Homo sapiens: one gene and its partners. The protein of the gene in region 7 interacts with the protein of the main gene of each other region in a biochemical or structural test. Each region holds a gene or a part of one and is shown on either strand. Other genes may lie near its edges.

Region 1 (4,176 bases), on a different chromosome or scaffold from region 7:
ACTCGTGTCCCTTGTTCATATTTCATGATACCTATAACATTTCATTGCAGTTACTTTACATGTCTATCAGTGTAAGCTCATCAAGATAAAAAAAATTGTTCTTTGGATCCCTTAACACACATACAGTATATAGCAAGGGGTTAGATTAATTGAATTAATGTTTATTTATTTTACAGAAGGGTAGGAATTAGATGAGCTGTGTTAGTGTCAGGCCTGTTTTTTATGTGCCTGACATCCAGAATGGGCATAGTGAAAGGCTCATATATAGCTGTATATACAAAGCCTTTCTAATAGAGGGGAGTCAGTGTTGGTAAAAACCCAGTTCATGTAAGTTGTAAAACATGTCTTCGGATTGGTTCTTTGCATACCCAGAAGCAGTTAGGCATTCCACATTTTAACTTTAAATTCCTGAGTAGGTCAGTATCTTTGATCATTAAGTGGTCTTCAAAAGACTTGTGTTTGAATCTTGGTTCTATCATTTACCATTTGTACACTAGACTAAGTTCTTTAAGCCTCATTTTTCTCATGCATAAAATAGGGGCAATGCATGTATTTTCTGGTATTGATTAAAATGAGAAGCTTAGGCTTTTCTCTGTTCTCCTCTTGAAGGTGGTGTGTGTGTGTTACCTGGAATAGCTAACATTTGGTTTGCCAGTGGGCAGAATGGACTGTTGTGAAGCCATTTGTACACATCTGGCTATTGGAAGAAATAATCTACATGTGTAAAATTTTGTTTACAGATTATTCTGAAACATGATTATGTAGGCTTTATTGCTGTGTTGTACTTTTGAGAATTGAGATCTAGAATACTTGCGTTTCTGGATAACTTTTTAAAAAAACATTTTGGTGACGTGTAAAATGACTAGATAAATTAGGGTTTATTACTGTATAAGTTTTAAGTTTTTTTCTATTACTATAGACTGAATTTTCATGGAATAGATTATTTATTGCAGTGTAAATAGGTGATTTGGGTTCATTATTAGAGAAATGCTTGGAAACAAATGTTACGGAATATTTAGCAATAATATTTTAAATTTGAGTTAAGCATACTTTTCTTTTTACAGAATGACAGCCCATATCAAGGCGGTGTATTCTTTTTGACAATTCATTTTCCTACAGACTACCCCTTCAAACCACCTAAGGCAAGTATTTTCCCTCAAAATCTGTTAGTATAGATTTATGCTTTATTTCAAAGGAATAGAGCATTCTTGGAAGATAGGGTTCTGTGTAGGCTGTATATATATGTTGAATTGCACTCATGTATAGATGCTGACTCTTAACCTTTGGTTTAAAGAGCTAGACCTCAGTTTGAGCTTTGTAAATAGGAATAAGGTTTGCCTTTTCTTTAATGTTGCAAGATTCAGACCATGTGGAAGCTTCCGCCCTCATCTGTATTATTGTTACACAGATTCTGATTTTTGGGCTTTTGTTGTCTTGTAAGCATCAAATGTCCAACTTCAATTTATATTTGCACGTATTGTTACAGCATATGCTTATTATGCTTATAGTTTTGTATACGTAAGTGTAAATTTGTGAAAACTTAGAGTTGCTTAGTGCACTGGTTTATAGGTATTAAAAGCATATTATCCTTCACTTTTCAGTCATTAACATAAATTCAACCTGTATGAATAACTAGAAAAGGTAATATACAAAGGTCATAAACATGTCACTATAACAATCTCTAGTAATGTTATAGGTGCAATGTGATGGTTTCCATTTTTGTGATTCAAGTTTATGTTTTATGTACGGTGGAAATGCAGACTCAGGTGTACCTGTGTAACTTAATGAAACTTTAAATGAGATGGTCTACAAATTTTGGTTACATCCAAAAGTTAGGGCTTTTATAAATGAATGTGTTAAATACCTTTAAATTGCCCTTTGATTCATGATATGGTAGGGCCACAGTAACCTTTAGAACTTTACATCATATGAGTAATGAAATTTTTATCCAAAAGTTTAGGTTTCTGTTGTAAAAAGAGGAGGCAGGGGGTTGTGGTCAGATTGTAAAAATCAGTTTCTATAATATTTAGAACTTCTATGCTAATAGATGACATTTTTAACATTGTGGCTTGATTATTTTAAGTTTTGCTTTAAAAGATGTTTGTTTTTATTTGAATAAAATACTTAAAAGTTTTTGTTTTAGGTTGCATTTACAACAAGAATTTATCATCCAAATATTAACAGTAATGGCAGCATTTGTCTCGATATTCTAAGATCACAGTGGTCGCCTGCTTTAACAATTTCTAAAGGTAAATATTTCTAGTGAAATAAGCTGTTCTCATTGTCTAATAAAGCTTCATTCTTAGATCTACTTATCTGAGTATTTTTATTATGGCAGCTTTTTGGTAAGAGATGGGGAAGCAATAAAGTTACTTTTATAATTTTTGTTCTTTTAGTGGTGTTGATTAAAGATACTTTGTGAGAAGTTGTTAAAATTCAAATTGTGGTGAGTAGGCATTATTTGCCTAATGAGTTACCTTCATCTCATCTTATAATAGCAAAATTTATTTTAATAGACTTCTGTATTTTTCAATCCCAAACCACTTGGACATCTCACACTAACTTGCGGCCTTTTTACCAAGAATGGTATGATATACCTAAACTTAATAGAGCTTTTGAATCCTGAGGTTTCCACTCTAGGAAAATTCTGATTTTGCTTTCCTGGGTTAATTTTTAGACAAATCTTCAGTCATGTTTTATGTAACCATGATAGGTTGTTTCTACCTAATGACAGTCTAAAATTATATAATCTTCGAAAGATCTGTAGATCAATTCTGGTCTCTTAATAGGTATCTGTTACGTTATATGTAACAAGTTTTCCGGTCTCCGCATGAATATCCCAGGTGAAGTTGTAATAATTAACACTATTTCACCATTAATTGTTTTTTGATTTTATGAGTTCAGTAAGTACAAAAAAGCTTTTTCAAAAGGCAAGGCATTGTATAAAAGTTTCATATGTGTATATACTGCACTTGAATCTCATGGAGAGAGACTGTAGCAGTAGCATTTCCCAAACTTTATTGAGTAGAATCACTTAAGGGAGAAAAAGAAACAACTTAGGCAGATGCTGCCATAATTCGAGTGTTTTTAAAATTTTACACCTGTTTTTCACCTTCTTGGATGCTTTCTAATTTCTTTTCAAATCATGCTACATACCTAAATATCAGTTTCCAAGTTTTTCTACTACTGCTGGGAGTGTACAGTAACACTGAAAACTGTTTTTGTAAGGGCAGATTGAATTGGTATTGTTTTGTCGTTAAAGCAACTTACTTTTTTGGCAGCCATACTTTGCTAACTTATTAAACTAGCAGTCACAACTGAAGCTACCTTTTTTCTGTGAGTTATTGTATAGCCAAGTCTCCTATATTAGGTAATTTTATATTCTGCTGTATTTGGGGTTTGAAATTAAATTTGCTGTAGTCAATAAATATGTGACAGTGTTGTCTTTTTTATACTATTGCTTTTTTTAAAAAAAAATCGGTCAGAACCATTTCAAGCATTTATATCTTAACATTTTATAACAGCACCACCATATATGGTGACTGGCACATAGCAGGCACTCAAAGTGAATGCGATCTATGTTCCTTAATGCTTGACATCTTATACATCAGTATGTTGAACTGGTTAAGGTAAAAACTAGAGCTGATGACTCACTTAGTACTAAAGAGATTTTGGCATTGTATTTAACTAGTACTCTTGGGAATATGGTTTCTTGCTTACAAGTTCAAGGAGACATTTAGTGGAGCACTTGAGGGTTTTTCTCAGAAATTGCCAAGACAACGGCTAAGAATGGATTTTTCATCATGCCTAATGGCTATGAATATGGCATGAGTGTTACCTGCATATTCTTGCTAAAGTCCCCCCCCCCCCAGCCACTGAGTACCAAGAAACTCAAGTTCTAATATCATTTATGCCTATTTAAAATATATATATTAATATGGCATCAGTTGCCTATCTTAGAAACTATTTTTATGGCTAGTCTGCAGTGAATTTCATGCCACAAAACCCTGTTTTTAGCACTTCTTACTTACCAGGAGCTTGTCTTCTGTGAAACAAAATCTCTGTAAAACTGTGTCTCATTGAGATAAAGATACAAACTAATAAAAGTCTTTTGAGGATTGAGTTTTGTAATACACGGTTTAGAAAAATTTATTTATCCAAACTCCTGAAACTGGG
Region 2 (4,176 bases), on a different chromosome or scaffold from region 7:
CTCGGCCTTCCAAAGTGCTGGGATTACAAGCATGAGCCACCGCGCCAAACCAAGAAGTCGTTTTTTTTTTTTTTTTTTTTTTTTTTTTTAAGCTGGGAGTCTCACTCTATTTCTTTTAAGCTAGAACTTATCTACCTTGTAAATTGTGTTTTATTTTTGTTTTTGTTTTTGATGGAGTCTTGCTCTGTTGCCCAGGCTGGAGTGCAGTGGTGCAATCTTGGCTCACTGCAACCTCTGCCTCCTGAGTTGAGGCTATTCTTATGCCTCAGCCTCCTGAGTACCTGGGATTTCAGGCGTGCGCCACCACGCCCGGCTAATTTTGTATTTTTAGTAGACCTGACCTCAACTCCTGACCTCAAGTGATCCGCCCACCTTGGCCTCTCAGAGTGCTGGGATTACAAGCATGGGCCACTGTGCCTGGCCCCTTCAGATTGTTCTAAATAGGCTCAAAATAGAATAAGGCTTAAACCTATGTAAGTTGGGAAATTGAGTTTGAGTTTATACTTGAAAGATCAGTGAAGATAAAAACTTCCTTTAGGCCTGATGCAGTGGCTCATATCTGTAATCCCAGCACTTTGGGAGACTGAGGCAGGTGGCAGTTGACATCAGCCTGGCCACCATGGCAAAATCCCATTTCTACTAAAAATCCAAAAAAATTAGCTGGGCGTGGTGTTACACGCGCATAATCCCACCTACTCCGGAGGCTGAGGCTGAGAATCCCTTGAACCTGGGAGGTGGAGGCTGCAGTGAGCCAAGATCACACCACTGCACTCTAGCCTGGGTGACAGAGCGAGAGCATTTCAAAGGAAAAAAAAAAAAAAACTTTAGAATGTTTGAAGTATTTTTATGCCTAGTGTATTTACAATGTAATAAGAAAATACTGTGCTCATAATTGATATGTAAACCTTCTTGTATGTAGTTCCTTATAAAGATACCTTTTTTTTTTTTTTTTTTGAGACAGAGTCTCGCTCTGTTGTCCAGGATGGAGTGCAGTAGTGCAATCTCGACTCACTGCAACTTCTGCCTCCCGAGACCAAGCGATTCTCCTGTCTCAGTCTCCCGAGTAGGTGGGACTACGGGCGCACGCCACCACGCCCAGCTAATTTTTGTATTGTCAGCAAGATGGGGTTTCACCATATTGGTCAGACTGGTCTTGAGCTCCTGACCTCAGGTGATCCACCTGCCTCATCCTCCCAAAGTGCTGGGATTACAGGCGTGAGCCACTGTGCCCAGCAAGATACCATATACTCTTATTTGAAGAATTTTGCTGAAATCACCCTACATGAACTTATGAATTGTGTTAAATAATTTATAAACTGGCATCTTCTATATTTGAACACTAGTGCCCCTTCAGGATACAGGGGAATTTTAAAAGGTAATCCTTTTGGAGAACTTCTTTAGCAAAACTGCATACAAAATAGAAAATCATAGGCTGGGCGTGGTAATCCAGCACTTTGGGAGGCCAAGGCTGGAAGACCAGTCTGGACAACATAGTAAGACCTCATCTGGTTTTTTTGTTTTGTTTTGAGGTGGAGTTTTGCTCTTATTGCCCAGGCTAGAGTGCAGTGGCGCAATCTCGGCTCACTGCATCCTCCGCCTTCCAGTTTTAAGCGATTCTTCTGCCTCAGCCTCCCAAGTCACTGGGATTACAGGACCTCGTGAACCACCCGCCTCAGCCTCCCAAAGTGCTGGGTTTACAGGCATGAGCCACTGCGCCTGGCCCAGACCTCATCTCTTAAAAAAAAATTAGGTGGTTGTGGTGGCACATACCTGTAGTCCAGGCTATTTCAGTGACAGAGGTGGGAGGATTGCTTGAGCTTGGCAGGTCTAGGCTGCAGTGAGCCATGATCTCATCGCTGCACTCCAGTGTGGGTGACAGAATGAGACCCTGTCTCAAAACCACAAACAAACAGAATCATGCTTCAGTTTGGTGGTTTTGAACAGTATTCTTTTCTTTTTTTTTTTTTTTTTTGAGAGTCTCGCACTGTTGCCCAGGCTGGAGTGCAGTGGCACCATCTCGGCTCACTGCAACCTCTGCCTCCTGGGTTCAAGCGATTCTCCTGCCTCAGCCTCCCAAGTAGCTGGGACTACAGGTGCGTGCCACCGTGCCCAGCCAATTTTTGTATTTTTTGTAGAGACGGGGTTTCACAATATTGGCCAGGATGATCTCGATCTCTTGACCTCGTGATCCGCCTGCTTCGGCCTCCCAAAGTGCTGGGATTACAGGTGTGAGCCACTGGTGCCTGGCCTTGAACACTATTCTTATGCATATCTTATTTAACTTTTCTGCAATTGCAAAATTTTGCCTTTTTTTTTTTGAGACAGGCTTTTGCCCTGTTGCCCATGCTGAAGTGCAGTGGGAGGATTATGATCATGGCTCACTGCATCCTCTGCCTCCCAGGCTCAAGCAGTCCTCCCACCTCAGGCTCCCAGGTAGTTGGGACTATAGGCTTGTGCCACTGGGCGATTCTTTTTTTTTTTTTTTTTTTTTTTGAGACGGAGTCTCGCTTTGTCGGTCAGACTGGAGTGTAGTGACATAATCTCGGCTCACTGCAACCTCCACCTCCCGGGTTCAAGCAATTCTCCTGCCTCAGCCTCCTGAGTAGGTGGGATTATAGGCACCTACCACCGTGCTCGGCTAATTTATTTTTCGTAGAAACGGGGTTTTACCACGTTGGCCAGGCTGGTCTTGAACTCCTGAGCTCAGGTGACCCACCCGTCTCGCCACCTCGGCCTCCCAAAGTGCTGGGATTACAGGCATGAAGCACTACGCCTGGCTTTTCTTTTCTTTTTTTTTTTTAAGATGGAGTTTTCCTCTTGTTACTGAGGCTGAATGCAATGGCGCAATCTAGGCTTACTGGAACCTCCGCCTCCCAGGTTCCAGTGATTCTCCTGCCTCAGCCTCACAAGTAGCTGGGATTACAGGCATGCACCACCACGCCTGGCTAATTTTGTATTTTTAGTAGAGACGGGGCTTCACCATGTTGATCAGGTTGGCTGCTCTGAAACTCCTGACCTCAGGTAATCCACCTGCCTTGGCCTTCCAAAATGTTGGGATTATAGGCGTGAGCCACTGCACCTGGCCACCATGCAAATTTTTTAATTTCTTTTTTTTTGAGATGGAGTCTTGCTCTGTTGCCCAGGCTGGAGTGCAGTGGCATGATCTCAGCTCACTGCAACCTCTGCTCCTGGGTTCAAGCAATTCTCCTGCCTCAGCCTCTTGAATAACTGGGATTACAGCGCCTGCCACCTAGCCTGGCTAATTTTTTGTATTTTTATTTATTTAATTAATTAATTTTTTTTTTTTTTTGAGACAAGAGTCTCGCTCTTGCAATGGCACGATCTCGGCTCATTGCAACCTCCACCTCCCGGGTTCATGCAATTTTCCCCCCTCAACCTCCGGCTGGAGTAGCTGGGACTACAGGTGTGTGCCATTGTGCTCAGCCAATTTTTGTGTTTTTAGTAGAGACGGGGTTTCACCATGTTGGACAGGCTGGTCTCGAACTCCTGACCTCAGGTGATCTTCCACCTCAGTCTCCCAAGGTGCTAGGATTACAGGCGTGAGCCACAATACTTGGCCTTTGTTTTTAAGTAGATGATGGTTATATACTGTTTTTCATCCCTTTTATGCCACTGATACTTACTGAGCAGCACCTACTATGTGCAAGGGATAGACTGTGTAACTAAAACAGTCTAGGTTCCTATATCTCCTGAAGTGTGTTTTTTAGTAAGACAGTAAGTAATTACAGATTTGGGTAAGTATTAAAGGAAATTAAAAAGCGGTGCTTTTTTAAAGCTATTCCAGGAAGTTCAAGGGTGTAGGTTGGGGCATTTTAGGTCGGTTTTGTTGTTGTTGTTGTTGTTTTTGATATTGAATCTGGTCTGTCACCCAGGCTGGAGTGCTAGGGCACGATCTTGGCTCACTGCAAACTCCGCCTCCCAGGTTCAAGCGATCCTCCTGCCTCAGCCTCCCGAATAGCTGGGATTACAGGCGGATGCCACCACACTCGGCTAATTTTTGTATTTTCAGTAGAGGCGGGGTTTCACCATATTGGCCAGGCTGATCTTGAACTCCAGACCTCAGATGATCTGCCTTGGTCTCCTAAAGTGTTGGAATTACAGTGTGAGCCCCCGAGCTCAGACTGGAGTCTTTAAATGGGCATTTTTTTCCTTTAA
Region 3 (4,176 bases), on a different chromosome or scaffold from region 7:
GGGTTCAAGCAATTCTCCTGCCTCAGTCTTCCGAGTAGCTGGGACTTCAGGCGCCCACCGCCATGCCCAGCTAATTTCTTTTGTATTTTAGTAGAGAGGGGGTTTCACCATGTTGCCCAGGCTGGCCTCGAACTCCTGAGCTCAGGCAATGCGCCTGTCTCTGCCTCCCAAAATGCTAGGATTACAGGCGTGAGCCACCATGCCCAGTGGTGGTCTACTCTTACATGTCTGTTGGAGGCCACATTTGCCAGATATTGTTGCTCCCGTCTTTTTTTTTTTTTTTTTTTTTTTTTTTTTGAGACAGAGTTTCGCTCTTATTGCCCAGGCTGGAGTACAATGGCGCGATCTCAGTTCACTGCAATCTCCACCTCCCAGATTCAAGTGATTCTCCTGTCTCAGCCTCCCAAGTAGCCGGGGTTACAGGTGCCCACCACCATGCCTAGCTTGTTTTTTGTATTTTTAGTAGAGATGGGATTTTACAGCCTAGCCGGCTGGTCTTAACTCCTGACCTGAGGTGATCCGACCTCCTCGTCCTCTCAATTGCTGGGATTACAGGCATGAGCCATGGCGCCTGGCCCGCCCCAGTCTAATTATTAGTCTGACATAAGTGTATTTTGGATAAACTACTTTTCCTAATATTCTTGCTCTGTGTTTATGTGAAAAACATCTGAGAACCATGATAAAGGTTTAAAAAAAAAAAGATGATGGATTAATTTACTTAACTGAAACAATGTGCTGAGGTTTGGTTAACACTGAAACCATCCTTCGTCTGGGATGTAATCCCTTTTTGTCCCAGAATTCACTGATTTGAATACATTTTCGATTTTAGGAAGGTGTGAGTTTCTTTCTGATCTTTTTGCTGTGTTATATTTTGCAGTATTTGAATTAGTGTTTGTGGTGTATTTTGATATTGCTTGTAATTTTATGTGAATTTGAGAAATTTAAAGGAATTTAAGAAAATTTCAAACACCCATACTTTAAGAAAGATTCTTTTCTTTGGTTCATATTTAATACGTACTTGAGTGGTTGTTTTATTATGCTTACCACTTCACGTTTTAAAAACGTACTCAGAACATTGTGAAGTACACTTATTTTTTAGGGTCTGTGAGGAAGGTGAATGACAATATTTCCACCTCTTAGATGAGTCACATGCTCCTGGTTGTATAACCAGAATCAGGAGTTGAATACAGGGCTTCTAACTCGAAGTTTAGTAATTTTTCACTATTTGCCCCTGAAGCACATGTTAGTAGCAGAAACTGAATTTTGAGAAACATTAACTTTTCTTATCAATTTACCTTAGTACAGGTTGAGCATCCCAAATCCAAAATCTGAAATGCTCTAAAGGCCAAAACTTTTTGAATGCTGACATGGCACTCACAGGAAATGCTCATTGGAGTATTTCAGATTTTGATTTTTGGATTTGGGATGCTCAACTGCCATATCGTGCACATATTCCAGAATCTGAAAAAATCAGAAATTCAAAATACTTTTGGTCCCAAGCATTTCTGATAAGGGATATTCAGCCTCTATGATGGTTCTCAAACTCTGTTTTAACCTGCATATAAATTTAAATACTAAGGTATTTAACTGAGAATGAGATAGTCCTTGACTGAGGAACAGTTTTTATTTTCTTCTGTGAGTCATTGAGTTGGTTGCCAAACAAGCCAAATTGACCCAGAGGGAGCTCATTTTAAAAAGTCAAACTAGGCTTTTTTTTTTTTTTTTTTTTTGAGATGGAGTTTCGCTCTTGCGCCCAGGCTGGAGTGCAATGGCGCGATCTTGGCTCACTGCAACCTCCGCCTCCTGGATTCAAGCGATTCTCCTGCCTCAGCCTCCCAAGTAGCTGCAATTACAGGCGTCTGCCACCATACCCAGCTAATTTTTTTATTTTTAGTCCAGACGGGGTTTCACCATGCTGGCCAGGCTGATCTTGAACTCCTGACCTCAGATGATCCACCTGCCTCGGCCTCCCAAAGTGCTGGGATTACAGGCATGAGCCATTGCGCCTGGCCTTTTTTTTTTTTTTTTTTAAGACTGTACTAAATATATTAACGTGTTATGTAAAGGACCTGATGTTTGGTGTGAATACTGACATGATTTGACATGCGTATATAGTTTATGTAATCAAAGTATTGCTTTTGGATTAAAAAAAGTCCTGAAACTCAGTAAGTTGTTCGAAATGAAACAACTTAATTATTTTACAATTATAAAATATGTAATATATTAATACATTTTAATGTTAATAAGTTGTAGTATCTTGTAAATTATAAATAATTTGAAATGAGACAACTTAATTAAATATAGCTAATAACTCTTTCTTACTCAAGTCGCCATAAGAAATATACTTGATTTTAGGCCAGGCGCGGTGGCTCATGCCTGTAATCCCAGCACTTTGGGAGGCTGAGTTGGGTGGATCACCTGAGGTCAGGGGTTCGGGACCAGCCTGGCCAATATGGTGAAACGCCATCTCTACTGAAAATACAAAAGTTAGCAGGGGATGGTGACACACGCCTGTAATCCCAGCTACTTGGGAGGCTGAGGCAGGCTTGAACCCAGGAGGTGGAGGTTTCAGTGAGCCGAGTTCACACTGCCCTTCATCCTGGGTGACAGAGTGAAACTCTGTCTCAAAACACACACACACACACACACACAGACACACACACACACACACATACTTGATTTTAGATCTGCCTATGTTGTTCTACAGAATGTTGTCAAGTTACTTACCTGATACGAGCTTTTTGTGTTTTTTATTGGAATAATCATTATTTTACTTTAAACTGTATAAATACATGCAAACATCACATTCCTGATTCTTTTTCACATCTTCAGTGGATATTCAGCAAAATCAGAAGTAGATCAAATATATGTAAACAAAAATAGAAAATTAAAATAAATTTGATCTAATTCTAATTTTGTTGAATATTACGTTTGTATGAAAAAAAGATCAACAGGCAAATTAATCATTTGTAAATAAAATTTGAAGAGTAATGTTTACTTAAGATTATTTTCAAACATATTGGAAGTGGTCATTTGTTGTAGGTGATTCTTCACTTTTTTTGTTTGTTTGTTTGTTTTTTTTGAGACGAGAGTCTCGCTCTGTTGACCAGGCTGGAGTGCAGTGGCGCGATGTCAGCTCACTGCAAACTCCACCTCCCAGGTTCACGCCATTCTCCTGCCTCAGCCCCCTGAGTAGCTGGGACTACAGGTACCCATCACCACGCCTGGCTAATTTTTTCTATTTTTTTAGTAGAGACGGGGTTTCACCGTGTTAGCCAGGATGGTCTCGATCTCCTGACGTCGTCATCCTCCCAAAGTGCTAGGATTACAGGCGTGAGCCACTGCGCCTGGCCGATTCTTCCCTATTGTAGCATGTGGCTGACAGTCTCCACTTTACTAAGTTAAGAACTATATATACCCTTTTTTTTTTTTTTTAAATTGAGATGGAGTTTCGCCCTTGTTGCCCAGGCTGGAGTGCAATGGCGCAATCTTGGCTCACTGCAACTTCCGCCTCCCAGGTTCAAGCAATTCTCCTGCCTCAGTGTCCCTAGTAGCTGGGATTACAGGTGCCTGCCACCACACCCAGCTAATTTTTTGTATTTTTAGTAGAGATGGGGGTTTCACTATGTTGGCCAGGCTGGTCTCGAACTCCTGATCTCAGGCAATCCACCAGCCTCAGTCTCCCAAAGTGCTGGGATTACAGGCGTGAGCCACCGTGCCTGGCTAAAATTTAAACTTTTAACATTTAGACTGGACTACTCTTAGGTAAGTAAAATATTTTAGTTTTTAATCTACTTAGGGGGGAAAAATCTCTATAGATTACTTATGATACAAACAGATGACCTAAAGATAGCAACTTAAAAAATTTTTTTTCCCTGAAAGCGTATTAGCCGTTTGAGAGTTTAATTTTGCATTTTCGTTTCACTTCTTCATTTCTGTAGAGATCATTGGAGTAATAATAGTACAAAATATTTCTCCCCTCTTGCAAGCTTTTAATTATACTTGTATTAGGCAGCGTATTTGTCAGTATAAACCTAATTGAGATAAGGAACAGTAGAATGGGCAACTACAAAGAGTTGTGTTGGGACAGAATGTGATCTAGTAATAATTGTGGTGGATTTGATGGTGATTTGCTACCCCAGTGATACAGATTATATTTTGCAATTAGCAAAATTT
Region 4 (4,176 bases), on a different chromosome or scaffold from region 7:
GCGCTCAGCCCCATGTGGTGATTTTTTATGGCAGGAATAAATTTCTCAGTCGCTTATTGTATAAAATTGAATTTTATACAATTAATTATTATCTAATTAACTGCTTTTCTCCTAGGCGACCACCTTCAGTGACACTTCACTTGGGGGGACAGACTTTTTGTTTTGAGTTGCTATTGGGATAAATAAAAGATGCGATAGTTCATCTTTTATTTTGACAATAGAATGGCAAATGAAGGAATGCATTTACTTAGACTTTTACTTATACTGATAATTTTAACACTCAAGACTGATTAACTTTGTTTTACTCGGTTTCTTTTGTAATGGGTATACAGTAACTTTGAGGATGATTACACTGTTTTAAGAAAACCTGTTAAGAATGCTAAAAAGAATATTGTGGTGGAAAAATACAGGTTACAAGGTTTATGTTTCTATTTGCACTATATGTGTAATTAAATAGTTTGGTTCAAGTAAAGCAAATGATTTATACAAAGAGGGATAATTTTTTTCTTTTTTATCTCCTTAGGATAGCAGTGAGATTCACTTCAAAGTGAAAATGACAACACATCTCAAGAAACTCAAAGAATCATACTGTCAAAGACAGGTTCGTCCATTTTGGTATTAAGTACAATGCTTTGTCGTTAATTTTTTTTTTTTTATAGAAGATTGTCAGAAGAAAAATCCTGTTTTATTATTTTCACCATTAGCAACTCAAGGAAAACACTCTATCATTTCTTGTACCCTGCTTAACTGCTTTTTTTGTCTTGTGGCCCATTTTAAAGTTTGAATTCGTAAGATGGGAACTAGTTTGAAAAGTAACTCAGAATTGTAAAAGCGAGCTCAAATGAATGTTTCTGTCTTGATGGCTTACCAGTATATATAGCAAAAAAGGCAAGTAATTTTTTGGTGATTACTATGGATTGTTTTTGTACTTCTAATCATGAGTGTTTAGCCATATGTTAAATTTAAGTAGTAGTATTATTAGTATATTATCTCTCTTTTTTTTTTTTTTTGAGATGGAGTTTGCTCTTGCTGCCCAGGCTGGAGTGCAGTGGCACGATCTCTGCTCACTGCAACCTCCGCCTCCCAAGTTCAAGTGATTCTCCTGCCTCAGCCTCCCGAGTAGCTGGGATTACAGGCATGCACTACCACGCCCAGCTAATTTTGTATTTTTAGTAGAGATGGGGTTTCTCCATGTTGGTCAGGCTGGTCTCGAACTCCCGACCTCAGGTGATCTGCCCACCTCGGCCTCCCAAAGTGCTGGGATTACAGGCGTGAGCCACCAGGCCTGGCCTTATAAAATAGGTTTTGAAAATAAATGTAATTGGAATTAATATGAGACAACCAAGATATAGTTTAAGTGAAATTATGATTTAATAAGCAAGAAATATATGTTTAATCAGTCTTAAATTAAATTATAGGCTGGGTGCAGTGGCTCATGCCTGTAATCCCAGCACTTTGGGAGGCTGAGGCGGGCGGATCACCTGAGGGCAGGAGTTCAAGACCAGCCTGGCCAACATGGCAAAACCTTGTCTCTACTAAAAGTACAAAAATTAGCCAGGCATGGTGGCGCATGCCTGTAATTCCCAGCTAGTCGGGAGGCTGAGGCAGGAGAATCACTTGAATCTGGGAGGCAGAGGTTGCAGTGAGCTGAGATCATGCCACTGCACTTCAGCCTGGGTGACAGAGCAAGACTCCATCTCAAAAAAAAAAAAGAAAAAAGAAAAAAAAGAAAAAAAATTGAATTATATTACATAATATTAACTCAGGTATTGTAAATTTTATTTTCATTTATTTATTTATTTCTTTGAGATGGAGTCTTCACTCTGTCGCCCAGGCTGGAATGCAGTGGTGTGATCTCAGGTCACTGCAACCTGTGACTCCCTGGTTCAAGCGATTCTCCTGCCTCAGTCTCCCGAGTAGCTGGGATTACAGGCATGCACCACCACGCCCGGCTAATTTTTGTATTTTTAGTAGTGGCGGGGTTTCACTATGTTGGTCAGGCTGGTCTCGAACTCCTGACCTTGTGATCCGCCCGCCTTGGCCTCCCAAAGTGCTGGGATTACAGGCATAAGCCACCGTGCCCGGCCTGTAGATTTCATTTTTAGAAGGTTTGCTTTTAACAGTTTAAATTTGTAACTCACATTAAAAAAAACTTATTATAAGAAAGAGAAACTAGGTGTTAGGATAAGTAAAACAATAAGCATTTTTGTCTCTTCTGTTTTTGTAGATTTTAATTGTTTAACTTAATAAAATCACATTAATTGGGGTTCAACTACTTCACATTTGTAATAACTTTGGGTGTTAAAATTGAGATGAAATTCATCAGGGGAAAGAAACATTTATTGAAATCTCAATTATGTGTACTGTGCCATAGGTATTTAAGATACATTATTGGCCAGGCACAGTGGCTCACGCCTCTAATCCCAGCACTTTGGGAGGCTGAGGCAGGCGGATCATGAGGTCAGGAGTTCGAGACCAGCCTGACCAACATGGTGAAACCCCTGTCTCTACTAAAAATACAAAAATTAGCTAGGCATGGTGGTGCACGCCTGTAATCCCAGCTACTCGGGAGGCAGAGGCAGAAGAATCGTTTGAACCCAGGAGGCGGAGGTTGCAATGAGCCGAGATCACGCCATTGCACTCCAGCCTGGGTGGCAGAGTGGGACACTGTCTCAAAAAAAAAAAAAAAAAAAGATTCATCGTCATTTAATTTTCATAACTCTGAAGAAAATTCATATAGTCTCTACGCCCCCCATCTGTAGGCCAGGGAATTGATTTTTTTTTTTTTTTTTTTTTTGAGACAGAGTCTCACTCTGTCGCCTAGGCTGGAGTGCAGTGGTGCCGTCTTAGCTCACTGCAACCTCCACCTCCTGGACTCAAGTGATTCCCAATGCCTCAGTCTCCCGAGTAGCTGGGATTACAGGCACCTGCCACCAGGCCTGGCTAATTTTTGTATTTTTTTTTGTATTTGTATTTGTATTTTTTTTTTTAGACAGGGTGTTCCTCTGTTGCCCAGGTTGGAGTGCAGTGACACGACCTTGGCTCACTGCAACCTCCACCTCCCGGGTTCAAGTGATTCTCCTGTCTCAGCCTCCCGAGTAGCTGGGATTACAGGCGCGTGCCACCTCGCCAGGCTAATTTTTGTATTTTTGGTAGAGATGGGGTTTCACCATGTTGGCCAGGCTGGTCTTGAACTCCTGACCTCTAGTGACCCACCCGCCTCGGCCTCCCAAAGTGCTGGGGTTACAGGCTGAATCACTGCGCCTGCCCCGTAATTTTTGTATTTTTAGTAGAGATGGAGTTTCATTATGTTGGCCAGGCTGGTCTCAAACTCCTGACCTCAAGTGAGCCGTCTCTCCCCTTTCAGCTGTTTTTGTTGAAGAGTGATTAGAAAAATGTATACTAATATATTTTGTAATATTTATGGTGCTATCTGTGCCATCCAGGTTTATGGTAGATGAGCTAGCTAGCCATTTGCGCTTTACCAGATTTTATGATAATGTTGGCCAGGCTGGTCTCAAACTCCTGACCTCAAGTGAGCCGTCTCCCCTTTCAGCTATTTTTGTTGAAGAGTGATTAGAAAAATGTATACTAATATATTTTGTAATATTGCGCTATCTATGCCATCCAGGTTTATGGTAGATTAGCTAGCTAGCCATTTGTGCTTTACCAAATTTTATGATGTAATCTGTTTAAAACCAATTTCGCCAGTATAGTTGGAAGCTAGTGAGGGTGCACGTCCAGTTTCTGATCTGATCTTTTATTCTAGCTTACAGATTTAGGGCAAAGTGAATCGAGTAGTGGTCAAGAGCATAGGCTTAGAAACAGGTTTGGGCTTAAATTCTTGGCTAGCTCCAAGCCTTAGGTTCCCTAGCTGTAACATGAAGATAAGGTGGTAATACCTACCTTCCAGGGTTGTTGTGTTTAACACTTATGATTATGTATGTAAAGAATTGGTACAGGGAGGGCCTTGCAAATAGTTGCTACTCAGTACAGTATATAGTATTTATGATTGAATTAGCTTGTCTAATTTTATTTTCTATGTAGTGTTCTAAGGCTTTCATGCTTGCTTTTTGTGCATCAAAGTTACCATTATGTTTTCTAATATTTGTGTGTGTATGTATGCATTATTATTATCTTTACCTTTTTAGGGTGTTCCAATGAATTCACTCAGGT
Region 5 (4,176 bases), on a different chromosome or scaffold from region 7:
ATGTAGTCTTTGTACTAATAAGAAAAAAATCTAGCTGGGCAGGGTGGCTCACGCCTGTAATCTCAGCACTTTGGGAGGCCGAGGCGGGCGGATCATTTGAGGTCAGGAGTTTGAGACCAGCCTAACCAACATGGTGAAACCCTGTCTCTATTAAAAATACAAAAAAATTAGCTGGACGTGGTGGCACATGCCTGTGGTCCCAGCTACTTGGGAGGCTGAGGCAAGAGAATTGCTTGAACCTGGGAGACAGAGGTTGCAGTGAGCCAAGATCGCGTGACTGCACTCCAGCCTGGGAGACAGAGTGAGACTCCATCTCAAAAAAAAAAAAAAAAAAATTAAAAGATCTGTTACAAATAAGACAAATGTTAACATTTGACAAAGCTAGGTGAAGGACACATAGATGCTGGTTCTATCATTCTCTAAAACTTCTATTATGTTAGAAACATTTCTTTTAAAAACAAAAAAATAAATTTATAGTTAAGTGCAACAAAAGAATAAGAGTGACTCTAACAGAGCAATAGAAGGGACATAATTCAAGTTGGAACATCAATAAAGATACTAAAAAGTGGAATTTAGGCTGGGTGCGGTGGCTCATGCCTGTAATCCCAGCACTTTGGGAGGCCAACGCGGGTCAGGAGTCTGAGACCAGCCTGGCCAACATGGCAAACCCCCATCTGTATTAAATTAGCCAGGTGTTGTGGCACACACTTGTAGTCCCAGCTACTTGGGAGGCTAAGGCAGCAGAATCACTTAAACCCAGGAGATGGAGGTTGCAGTGAGCGAGATCATGCCACTGCACTCCAGCCTGAGTGACAGAGTGAGACTCTGTCTCAATAAAAAAGAAAGTGGAATTTACAGTGAGAAATGAAGGACCCATAGGAGTTAGCCAGACTGGGGAGGAAGGAGGAAGAACAGAAGTGCAAAGGTCTTGAGACCAAACGAAAGGCATGCAGGCCAGTGTGCACCTTGAGCACTCCCAGTGAGCCATGGCAAGAAGCATGCATGCTGAGGCTGATGCCCCTAAAGGAATCTGAAGTGCAGAAATGACACGACGCAATTTGTCTCTTAGGAGGATCCCTCTGGCTGCTAACTTTGGAAAGACTGGAAGGGATTTTAAAAAGTAGAATCAGAGACGTTGTTGCAAGAGTCCAGGAAATAAATGATGGCCAATATTCACTTGGTGGCAATGTAAATAGAAAAATAAGACCTAAATCCAGTCACATTTGGAACATAAAACTGACAAGGCTTAATGATAAATGGGTTGGGGGAAGGGAGGTAGAGAGGGAGGCAAAATATCAACTACTGGACCAAAAGCCCAAGAGATCAGATAAGCTTATTAGAGGTAGGTCTGAAATTTAATCTAAATTTCCTAGCTTCCATGACAATGTAGAACACACCATTAGTTACTTAATTTACAGAAGCTATAATGTAAAAACAAAACAGTAGTGGAGAAAACCAGATATGTCTAGTAGCAAAATCTAACAAAGGTCTTCTTCATAAAGGCAATGCTGTGTGTCACACAGGACATTCCCTAAATAATATCTTTTCTGTGTACTCATATGCTTTATAATCCTGCTCCTATCAAATTTCTTAAAAATAGATAAGTGTGCATAATTTCTAGAATAATCACTGAAAGAACACAAACAGAATGAAAGAAGTTGAGAACAACCATTCCAAAAGTAGGCAAGAAACATGTAGAAAAATAGAAACCACCAAATAAGATGATCTGTTTAAACCTGAACATGTCAGTAATTAAGAATATTAAATGTAAATGGACTAAATGCTCCCAGTAAATCACAAAGACTGACCAACTGAGGACTGTGAGGGCTGGAGAGACTCTCAGGTCCCAGCTCTGAGTTGGCACAGGGGTGGGGGGGTGTTAATGGCCCAGCAGGTGCAGGGCTAAGGTTTCCAATGACCTTTCCCAGCTTCTTCCTTTCTCAGGGTCATGCTTTATTTGGCCTGGTGCCTCCCTGCTGGATGCACCAGCCAATCTGGGGCCCCGCCTCAGACCTGCGTATTAGGTTGGGGTTGAGGGGCAGGGAGCTGGCTGTGAATCCAAGATTCAACTTGTTGCCAGAAGTACAGTTATATGAAGGGGAAATTGAGCAAATAAGTAAATGCACTGGGAAGCATGGGAGCCAGGTTTCTCAACTGGAAAGGAAGAATCATAGAACAAACCCTATAGTTTTAGAATAAAATTAGTGGGAGTTGTTAGTATAAACTCGTGATTTTTAACAGATGGTAAACAGATGAGAAGGAAAGAGAGAAGGAGAGAAGAAAGGAGGATGAATTTGTGTACATATGTGATACATTTGTAGTACAAAATACACTGGTAGAGAGAGGGAACGCAGGGATGGGATGAGAAATCAAGGATACTGAGGCCCTATTTCCTAAGATGGATGATACTCATTTTATGATGATGATATGTTATTTTGCTTCCTAAAATGTATTTTGTATGTGGCGTGCTCTCAACATGGCACCAAGAGAGCCTAGGCTTCAAAGACTTATCATGAACTTAACAATCTACTCATACTGGAAATTCAGCTGTTTCTACTAACTAACTTGTGTGGGTCAAGCAGGGCATGTCATTTTGTTTAAAGAGACAATGGGCTGGACACAGTGGCTCACGCCTGTAATCCCAGCACTTTGGGAGGCCAAGGTGGGCAGATCACTTGAGGTCAGGAGTTGAGTCCAGCCTGGCCAACATGACGAAACCCCATCTCTACCAAAAAATACAAAAATTAGATGGGCTTGGTGGCATGTGCCTTGTAGTCTCACATACTTGGGAGGCTGAAGTGGGAGAATCACTTGAGGCCACAGGAAGTGGGGGAGTACCACTGCACTACAGCCTGGGGGACAGAGTGAAACCCAAAAATAAATAGACAATGATGCTCAGCCATGACTGTTTCAACACAGACATATTTGCTCTTTAAAGAAAAAAACCCTTCATGAATATTCATCCTTTTCATGAACAGTCATCCTTTTAATCCCACCAAATGTACCTTAACCCTCAGAAAAGTAACATTCAAAGAGAAATAATGATCATCTCTTTTTTTTTTTTTTTTTGAGACGGAGTTTCGCTCTTTCACCCAGGCTGGAGTGCAGTGGCACAATCTCTACAAGCGTGAGCCACCATGCCCCGCCCAATAATGGTCATCTTTTTACCAAATAAAGATCAACTGAAATATGACTATTAAGGCAATTAAAACCCTAAGAAAACTTTTGGCCAGGCACAGTGGCTCATACCTGTAATCCCAGCACTTTGGGAGGCCGAGCCGGGCGGATCAACTAAGGTCAGGAGTTCGAGACCAGCCTGGCCATTGTGAAACCCCGTCTCTACAAAAATACAAAAATTAACTGGGCATGATGGCAGGTGCCTGTAATCCCAGCTACTCGGGAGGTTGAGGCAGGAGAATCACTTGAAGCCGGGAGGCAGAGGTTGCAGTGAGCCAAGATCGCACAATTGTACTCCAGCCTGGGTGACAGAGTGAGACTCTGTTTCAAAAAAAAAAGAAAAGAAAAAAAAAGTTTTAACCACCACATGCATCTATTCTAGGCAAGTACATTAAGGTTTTTAAGGATGGCCTAATTTATATTAATAAAAGAAAAACAACATAATGCAACCTTCTTTAGACTTTTGGCTTAACAAAGGTCCTCTTTTAAAAACTTTCTCCTAACTACATATTAATATCTTACATATATTATGGTGTGTGTACGTATAATATATAACTCTATACATTATGTTATATAAAACCAAAATGACTATATTAACTTACCATCCCACTGGAATTATTTATTCCGTTCATATTAATTTTTGTTACAAATCTAACTGACGGAGGAGCTTCTGGGTATTTAGGTCCACATTCTACTTTCAGGCTATATATTCTGTTTTCATAATTTGTCTGGAAGGCAAAAAACAAAAAGATAATCAAAATAACAATACCTAAAATATTAATGTCTAAGTGCTAAAAAAAAAAAAGGGAAAGTACAATATGAATGTACGTAAGACAGTGTTTATGATTAAGAATTTATTTTTCTACATTCAAATTTATTTCACCTATATGGTGAGAAAAAATGCAATAAGCATACTTAAAAATTGAGATTTTACAAAATTAATTCCATGAGATTTTACAAAATTAATTCTACAAAGTATTATCAATATGATCCCAAGTT
Region 6 (4,176 bases), on a different chromosome or scaffold from region 7:
GAGTGTTCTTCAAATATTGTGAATTTCTATTGATAATTTTTGGGATTCTTTTTACAAGATAGTGATTAACCGTTAGAAACACATGATTGATTTCTTTTTGCCTTTTTTACATGTCTTAAAATTTTTTTGGGGTTCTCTCCACATACGTTTTAATCGTAGTGTTTATAATTAAAAGGTATTTTATATTTATTTTAGTGACCTTAATAGCTTATGCTCTGATTTCACAAAGGTTTTACTTGGAAGCTCAATATTCTTGTAAAAACAAATGCATCATCAAAAATGTGAGTCCTTACTTTTTAGGCAGGAGCAAAAAAAAGAAAAAGAAAAAATAAAAATAAATGTGAGTCTTATCTTTTTTTGGCATTTAGAAATAGAACGGAAAATTGAAAGATTTTAGAAAAGTCTTATTTCTTACTGAATAGAACAGATCTCTCTCTGATTCAGTGAGTATGAAATAATGACTGATGTTTTTTTTTTTTTTGAGACGGAGTCTCGCTCTGTCACCCAGGCTGGAGTGCAGTGGCGTGATGTTGGCTCACTGCAAGCTCTGCCTCCCAGGTTCACACCATTCTCGTGCCTCAGCCTCCCAAGTAGCTGGGACCACAGGCGCCTGCCACCACGCCTGGCTAATTTTTTGTATTTTTAGTAGAGACGGGGTTTCACCGTGTTATCTGGGATGGTCTCGATCTCCTGACCTCGTGATCCGCCTGCCTCGGCCTCCCAAAGTGCTGGGATTACACGTGTGAGCCACCGCGCCTGGCCTAATGACGGATTTTTGATTTTTTTTTTTTTTTTTTAAGAGATGGAGGTCTCCTCTCTTTGTTGCCCAAGCTGTTCTCCAGTTTCTGGGCTCAGCCATCCTCTTGCCTCAGCCCTCCCAGTAACTGGGGCTACAGGTGCACATCACTGTGCCTGGTTCAGTAATGGCTGATTAAAAAAGATTATTAAAAAGACAATATCATAAAAACTTTTTTTTTTTTTTTTGAGACGGACTGGGTCTCACACTGCCACCCAGACTAGAGTGCAGTGGTGTGATCACGGCTCACTGCAGCCTCTAGGGTAACTTTCTTTATTTTTTGTGGAGATGGGGTCTCACTTTGTTGTGCAGGCTGGTCTTGAACTCCTGGGCTCAAGCAATCCACCCACCTTGGCCTCCCAAAGTGCTGGGATTACAGGCGTGGGACACTGCACCTGGCCGAAATAATTTTGATAAAAGGGAAAAGAACTAATTCTCCTTCTCACAACAGCAATATTTATTTTACATATTATCTTCCACTTCTTGTTTATATGCTTATTTTTACATTGTGGATCATAGTATATACAATTTCTGAGATTTCTTTTTCTTTTTTTTTTTTTAAAGACGGTCTTGTTCTGTCACCCAGGCTGGAGTACAGTGGCACAATTATAGCTTGCTGCATCCTTACCGCCTGGGCTCAAGTGATTCTCCTGCCTCAGCCTCCAGAGCAGTTAAGACTACAGGCATGTGCCACCATGCCCAGCTAAAATACACGGTTCTGAAATTTTCACTTAACATTATGCTACAAACCTTTTTTGCATGGTCAGACTGATAAGCAGGTAGCCAAGAGAAGTGATGACCTTTGAAGTAACCACACTGAGAAGCTGTATACAGTATGGTTTACCATTGATGCTTGCTTTTTGTTTGTTTTTGTTTTTGTTTTTGTTTTCGACAGAATTTCACTCCGTCACCCAGGCTGGAGTGCAGTGGCATGATTTCGGCTCACTGCTGTCTCCGCCTCCTGGGTTCAAGCAGTTCTCCTGCTTCAGCCTCCGCAGTAGCTGGGATTACAGGCTCAAGCCACCATGCCCGTCTGATTTTTGTATTTTTAGTAGAGATGGAGTTTCACCATGTTGGGCAAGCTGGTCTCAAACTGACCTCAAGTGATCTGCCCTCCTCAGCCTCCCAAAGTGCTGGTATTATGGGCGTGAGCCACTGCAACCGGCCCCACTGATGCTTTCTGTGTCATTTAAAGCTACATAAGAAAACCAGTCTTGTTACTTTTATAGTCATTCCACATTTTACAATACTACTGTTTGATCTCCTCTGATATTTATCATACATGGCTTTGAATTACTGTTGAAAACTCAGAAGTCATATCAATTCTCAAAACATGAAGGAAAAATATGCAGCTGGATCTATTCTGAAAGAGCAATTTTTAAAAATGTTTTGAAGCCAGGTGCGGTGGCTCACGCCTGTAATCCCAGGCACTTTGGGAGGCCAAGGCGGGTGGATCACCGGAGGTCAGGAGCTTCAGACCAGTCTGGCCAACCTGGTGAAACCCTGTCTCTCCGAAAAATACAAAAATTAGCTGAGCATGGTGGTGCACGCCTGTAGTCCCAGCTACCCAGGAGGCTGAGGCAGGAGAATCTCGTGAACCCAGGAGACGGAGGTTGCAGTGAGCCGAGATCCAGCCACTGCACTCCAGCCTGGGCGACAGAGCGAGACTCTGTCTCCAATTTTAGTATATGTGCTGCTGAAGCGAGCACAGAGCGAGACCCTGTCTCAAAAAAAGAAAAAGTAAATAAAAGTAAAAATGTTTTGAGCCATGGCAGTATTCCATTAGCACCAACTTTGGGCTGACATCCACTACACATATACACTGGTGCACATGTGTAATCAGAATAATTCATGGAGTGAAGGTGAGGGATACATAGACACTATAGAACAGGTGAAAAATAAGCTAGCAGTCTAAGGACAAATGTGAGGGCATAGAAAGTGGAGGCTAAGAAGAGTACAAGAGGTTACTGGTACGGAAATTCATAGAGCTTTGTGCATAGCGGCAATAACATACTTGAGAAAATTATAGAACCTCAGTTGTAGAAGAGACCTTAATCTTTCAGATGGTTGATGAGTGCATATTTATTATAAAAATTAGGGGCTGTCATGTTTGTGGTATTTAACTTTATGGCCAATTTCCATTCATGTTCTTTTTTTTTTTTTTGAGACAGAGTCTCACTCTGTGGCCCAGGCTGGAGTGCAAAGGTACGATCTTGGCTCACTGCAGCCTCCACCTCCCGGGTTCAAGCGATTCTCCTGTCTCAGCCTCCTGAGTAGCTGGGATTACAGGCATGCGCCACCACGCCCGGCTCATTTTGTATTTTTAGTAGAGACGGGGTTTCTCCATTTTGGTCAGGCTGGTCTCGAACTCCCGACCTCAGGTGATCCTCCTGCTTCGACCTCCCAAAGTGCTGGGATTACCGGTGTGAACCACCGCGCCTGGCCTCATTCATATGCTTTTGTACAGAACATTTCCTTTCTCTTGGGTTAATATTAAACTATGATTAAGTTCTCTGTGTCTGGAAAGGTGGTCACAGTATTATAGATGTTAAGAGAAAACTTCAGGAATTTTAAGAATAGTTTCAATAGGGAATACATTTCAGAATTTCTTTTTTTTTTTTTTTTTGAGACGAAGTCTTATCCTGTCACCCAGGCTGGAGTGCAGTGCTGTGATCTTGGCTCATTGCAACCTCCGCCTCCCCGGTTCAAGTGATTCTCCTGCCTCAGCCTCCTGAGCAGCTGGGACCACAGATGCGCGTCACGACACCCAGCTAAATTTTTTGTATTTTTAATGGAGATGGGGTTTCATCTTGTTGGCGAGGCTGGTCTCAAACTCTTGACCTCAGGTGATCCACCCACCTCAGCCTCCCAAAGCGCTGGGATTACAGGCTTGAGCCACCATGCCTGGCTGAAGTTTCAGAAATTTAAGGGAGGTAATTTTGAGTTGCGAATGGAATCTTACTAGTAGATTCATTTATTGGTAGACTGCTACGTGCCAGGCATGGTTCACATCTTAAGGATACAACTGTGAGCAAGGCGTGGTGTCTGTCCTCAGAAAGCTTAAAGGTTAACAGGAATAGAGACACACGAATAGGTATTAGAATACAGTGAGAGAATGGTAAGGAGCTAATACTGGAGCACAAAAGAGGGAGGTCAAGAAAACCTTCCCAGAATAAATACTTTTTTATCTAAAATCTGGAAGATGTTTCTTGCAGGAGAAACATGCAGAGACTTGGAGGGGAATTGGGCAGACATGTATACAGACAGAGATGAGAGAGGGGAGACAATCGGTTTAGGGAATTGATAATTCCAAATGAGTAAAGCACAGCTAGTGCAATAAATGGACCTCAAGAGATAAATGGGAGATTGGGTTGGGCCTT
Region 7 (4,176 bases):
AGCCTGGGCAACACAGCGAGACTCCACCTCAAAAAAAAAAAAAAAAAAAAAAGAGAGAGAAAATAAGAAAGCAAGAGTGACAACATTAAAAATTGGTGAATCTGAATAATGAGTATTCAAGAGTTCTCAGTACTATTTTTTAAATCTTTCGGTAAGTTTGAAATTATGTCAAAATAAAAATGTAAGTAGCCAGGCGTGGTGGCTCACGCCTGTAATCCCAGCACTTTGGGAGGCCAAGGCGGGAGGATTACTTGAGGTCAGGAGTTCGAGACCAGCCTGGCCAACATAGCGAAACCCCATCTCTACCAAAAATATAAAAAATAACCTGAGCGTGGTAGCGTGCACCTCTAATCCCAGCTACCTGGGAGGGTGAGTCAGGAAAATCACTTGAAGCTGGAAGGTGGAGGTGACAATGAGCCAAGATGGGGCCACTGCACTCCAGCCTGGGCCACAGAGTGAGACTCCATTAAAAAAAAAAAAAAAAAAAAAAAATTTAAGTAACAACAAATTGGGATGTCAAAAGATAGTAAAATAAGTAATTTATTCGAGTGCCCTATAGTACATATGAATAAGGGAAATGACTACAACATTGATTCAGACTTGACACCTAGCCATATATAGAATTTCTTAAATTTTCTATTTGGTAGAAAAGGAAAAATATTTTTTAAGAATCCAATCACATACAAACTAAACTAAGATGCTAATCGTGTATGCCCTCAGGAAAACACAAAAATCTTCTCCATGTTAACACAATCCACACTGCCAAACTCTCCTTTCCACCAGCAAGCCATAAGCCCCTTCAGGCAGGTGTTAAGAGCCTGCCCTTTGTTTTAACTCAAGCACTGGCACAGTGCCTGAAATACAACACTCCTGTTTGTTGAATAAATACTGAACATTTACAAATAGAAACGAAATACTGTATTTTTATCAAAATGAAAAGAAGCGTGGAAGGGAACAGACACTTAAATATGGTACTTTCACAAATTTTGAGATGGAGTCTCACTCTGTTACTCAGGTTGGAGTGCAGTGGTGCAATCTCAGCTCACTGCAACCTCCACCTCCTGGGTTCAAGCAATTCTCCTGTCTCAGCCTCCCAAGCAGCTGGGATTACAGGCACCCACCACCACGCCCAGCTAATTTTTGTATTTACAGTTATATTTTTTTTATTTTTGTGTTTTTAGTAGAGACAAGGTTTCACCATGTTGGCCAGGCTGGTCTCGAACTCCTGATGTCAGGTGATCCACTCGCCTTGGCCTCCCAAAGTTCTGGGATTACAGGTGTGAGCCACTATACCTGGCCACTTTTACTAATTATTTTAAAACATTTTTATTTACAATTGAACATTTTCTTTTTTTTGAGATGGAATCTTGCTCTGTCACCCAGACTGAAGGGCAGTGGCGCAATCTTGGCTCACTGCAACCTCTGCCTCCTGGGTTCAAGTCATTCTCCTGCCTCAACCTCCCAAGTAGCTGGGATTACAAGCACCCGCCACCATGCCCGGCTACTTTTTGTATTTTTTAGTAGAGACAGGGTTTTGCCACGTTGGGCAGGCTGGTCTCAAACTCCTGACCTCAGGTGATCCGCCTGCCTCAGCCTCCCAAAGTGCTAGGATTACTACAGGTGTGCACCACCATGTCCAGCCTAAACATGAATGAACGTTTTCAAAAATATATTATTTTATTTTATTTCATTTACTTATTTATTTTGAGATAGGGTCTGGCTTTGTCACCGAGGCTGGAATGCAGTGGCACAATCTCGGCTCATTGCAACCTCTGCCTCCCGGGCTCAAGCCATCCTCTCACCTCAGCCTCCCGAGTAGCTGGGACTACAGGCATGTGCCATTATGCCTGTCTAATTTTTGTATTTTTTTGGTACAGCCAGAATTTCGTCACATTGCCCAGCCTAGTCTCAAACTCCTGGGCTCAAGCAATCCACCTTCCTCAGCCTCCCAAGGTGCTATGATTACAGGCATGAGCCACTGGGCCCAGCCAAAAAAATATATTTTAAAATATGAACAATTTTCAAACCTCACAAAAGCAGAGAACAATATTATTAATACCCATGTACCCATCACCCCAACCCAACAATTATCCAGATTGTGCCAGACCTGCTTCATCTATCTTATCTCCCTCCACCACATTTTTTGGTTTTTATCTGGTATCTGTTTAAAATAACAGACATTGCTGGGCACGGTGGCCCACGTCTGTAATCCCAGCACTTTGGGAGGCCGAGACGGGCGAATCACCTGAGATCACGAGTTCAAGACCAGCCTGGCTAACATGGTGAAAAACCGTTTCTACTAAAAATACAAAAAGTTAGCAGGCGTGGTGGCGCGCTCCTGTAATCCCAGCTACTCAGGAGACTGACGCAGAAGAATTGCTTGAACCCGGGAGGTGGAGGCTTCAGTGAGCTGAGATCACACCACTGCACTCCAGCTTGGGCAACGAGGGAAACTCCATCTCAAAATAAAATAAAATAAAATAAAATACCAGACATTTGCAAGTTTTCTCCCTCATTCCTCAGTCTCTATCACTAATAAAAAGTGGTCATTTTCTTACATAAACATAATGCCATTATCATCCCTAACAAAGTTACAATAACTCCTTGATATCATCTAATACCCATCCATATTCAGATTTCCCCCAATGTTTCAAAAATGACTTTCTACAATTGGTTTGAGTCAGGGTTTAAACAACACCAACATATTGTATTTGGTTACTACACATAAAATAATTTTAATCTGTCTACATCATCTGACAGCAAATATGAAAAGCTTAACAGACAAACCAAATAATTAATTTACATTTGTAGATTCTCTAGAATCAAACCTCACCTAATGCATTTGCCGCCCCTGCTATCTGTAGCAGTCTTCCTCCAAATCGTCACTATGGCTGATTTTTTCTAGTCATTGAAGTCACAGGTCAAATTACCACCTCTAAAAAGGCCCTCCCTAACCACTCAATCTACAGTAAAACCACTTCCATCCATGCCGTATCACATGGTCCTATTTTCCTCATGGCACTTACCACTACCTGAAACCATTCTGTTTATTATGTTCCCACACACAGAACAGAATGTCAGCTCCATGAAGGCAGAGTGCCTTCACTGAAGACCAGTGACTGTGCCTAGAACATGAGACATTCAATAAATGTATCTACGTAATAATGCAGTACCGCTCTTTAAAATGTAAGCTCAGCTAAGTATTTGGAGGCTTTTTTGTTGTTTTGTTTTTTTTCAAGATGGAGTCTTGCTCTGTCACCCAGGCTGGAGTGCAGATCTCAGCTCAGTGGAACCTCCACCTCCCGGGTTCAAGCAATTCTGCCTTACCCTCTTGAGCAGCCAGGATTACAGGCGCATGCCACCACCATGCCCAGCTAATTTTTGTATTTTTTTTTTAGTACAGACGGGGTTTCACCATGTTGGCCTGGCTGCTCTCGAACCCGACCTCATGATCTACCCGCCTCGGCTTCCCAAAGTGCTGGGATTACAGGTATGAGCAAGCGCACCCAGCCTCAGCTAAGTATTTGTCTTTAAATATTTGTAATTCACTCCTCATGTAATGATATAAATTGAGTACCTGTAGAAACCTGGGCCAGCTGTTACCAAGAATCTGTAGGATGTAGGAAAGAAACAAACAGAGGTATAAGACATTCAAATGTAATTGTGGACTTTTACTGAACAATAATTACAGGTTTCTGAAAGAAAAACAAATTATTCCAGATGATTTTTAAAATGTTACCAGGAGTAATAAAAAATTTCATTTTTAGTACCATCTGAAAGCTATTAAAGCTTCAGTAATTAATATCTACAATGGGACAACAATAGCAATAATATGTGGAACAACAATCATAGTTTTTTTGTTTGTTTGTTTTGAGAAACAGTCTCGCTCTGTCGCCCAAGCTGGAGTGCAGTGAGTGGCACGATCTCCGCTTACTGCAACCTCCGCCTCCGAGGTTCAAGCCATTCTCCTGCCTCAGCTTCCCAGGCAGCTGGGACTACAGGCGCACACCACTAAGCTCGGCTAATTTTTTGTATTTTCAGTAGAGATGGGGTTTCACCATTTTGGCCAGACTGGTCACCTCAAGTGATTCGCCCGCCTTGGCCTCCCAAAGTGCTGGGATTACAGGGGTGAGCCACCACGCCTGGCCCACAGCTTCATGACAGGTTTTACACATA

What was found.
Region 1: the proteins of RNF111 (region 7) and UBE2D3 form a complex in vitro, tested with the Homo sapiens proteins (3 studies listed by BioGRID).
Region 2: the proteins of RNF111 (region 7) and SUMO2 form a complex in vitro, tested with the Homo sapiens proteins (3 studies listed by BioGRID, with this or other methods).
Region 3: of the proteins of RNF111 (region 7) and SKIL, one has a biochemical effect on the other in vitro, tested with the Homo sapiens proteins (one study listed by BioGRID).
Region 4: the proteins of RNF111 (region 7) and SUMO1 form a complex in vitro, tested with the Homo sapiens proteins (3 studies listed by BioGRID).
Region 5: the proteins of RNF111 (region 7) and UBE2V2 form a complex in vitro, tested with the Homo sapiens proteins (one study listed by BioGRID).
Region 6: the proteins of RNF111 (region 7) and UBXN7 form a complex in vitro, tested with the Homo sapiens proteins (one study listed by BioGRID).

What each region holds. Positions count from the first base shown.
Region 1 is NC_000004.12:102,799,527-102,803,702, reverse strand, and holds part of UBE2D3 (ubiquitin-conjugating enzyme E2 D3), read left to right. Parts: intron 1-1,064; coding exon 1,065-1,142; intron 1,143-2,143; coding exon 2,144-2,249; intron 2,250-4,127; exon of another isoform or gene 4,128-4,176. UniProt on the Homo sapiens protein: Accepts ubiquitin from the E1 complex and catalyzes its covalent attachment to other proteins. In vitro catalyzes 'Lys-11'-, as well as 'Lys-48'-linked polyubiquitination.
Region 2 is NC_000017.11:75,176,306-75,180,481, reverse strand, and holds part of SUMO2 (small ubiquitin-related modifier 2 isoform a precursor), read left to right. Parts: intron 1-4,176. UniProt on the Homo sapiens protein: Ubiquitin-like protein that can be covalently attached to proteins as a monomer or as a lysine-linked polymer.
Region 3 is NC_000003.12:170,364,044-170,368,219, forward strand, and holds part of SKIL (ski-like protein), read left to right. Parts: intron 1-4,176. UniProt on the Homo sapiens protein: May have regulatory role in cell division or differentiation in response to extracellular signals.
Region 4 is NC_000002.12:202,210,782-202,214,957, reverse strand, and holds part of SUMO1 (small ubiquitin-related modifier 1 isoform a precursor), read left to right. Parts: intron 1-523; coding exon 524-601; intron 602-4,151; coding exon 4,152-4,176. UniProt on the Homo sapiens protein: Ubiquitin-like protein that can be covalently attached to proteins as a monomer or a lysine-linked polymer.
Region 5 is NC_000008.11:48,049,582-48,053,757, reverse strand, and holds part of UBE2V2 (ubiquitin-conjugating enzyme E2 variant 2), read right to left. Parts: intron 3,906-4,176; coding exon 3,780-3,905; intron 1-3,779. UniProt on the Homo sapiens protein: Has no ubiquitin ligase activity on its own. The UBE2V2/UBE2N heterodimer catalyzes the synthesis of non-canonical poly-ubiquitin chains that are linked through 'Lys-63'. This type of poly-ubiquitination does not lead to protein degradation by the proteasome.
Region 6 is NC_000003.12:196,425,632-196,429,807, reverse strand, and holds part of UBXN7 (UBX domain-containing protein 7), read left to right. Parts: intron 1-4,176. UniProt on the Homo sapiens protein: Ubiquitin-binding adapter that links a subset of NEDD8-associated cullin ring ligases (CRLs) to the segregase VCP/p97, to regulate turnover of their ubiquitination substrates.
Region 7 is NC_000015.10:58,990,350-58,994,525, reverse strand, and holds part of RNF111 (E3 ubiquitin-protein ligase Arkadia), read right to left. Parts: intron 3,611-4,176; exon of another isoform or gene 3,578-3,610; intron 1-3,577. UniProt on the Homo sapiens protein: E3 ubiquitin-protein ligase. Required for mesoderm patterning during embryonic development. Acts as an enhancer of the transcriptional responses of the SMAD2/SMAD3 effectors, which are activated downstream of BMP.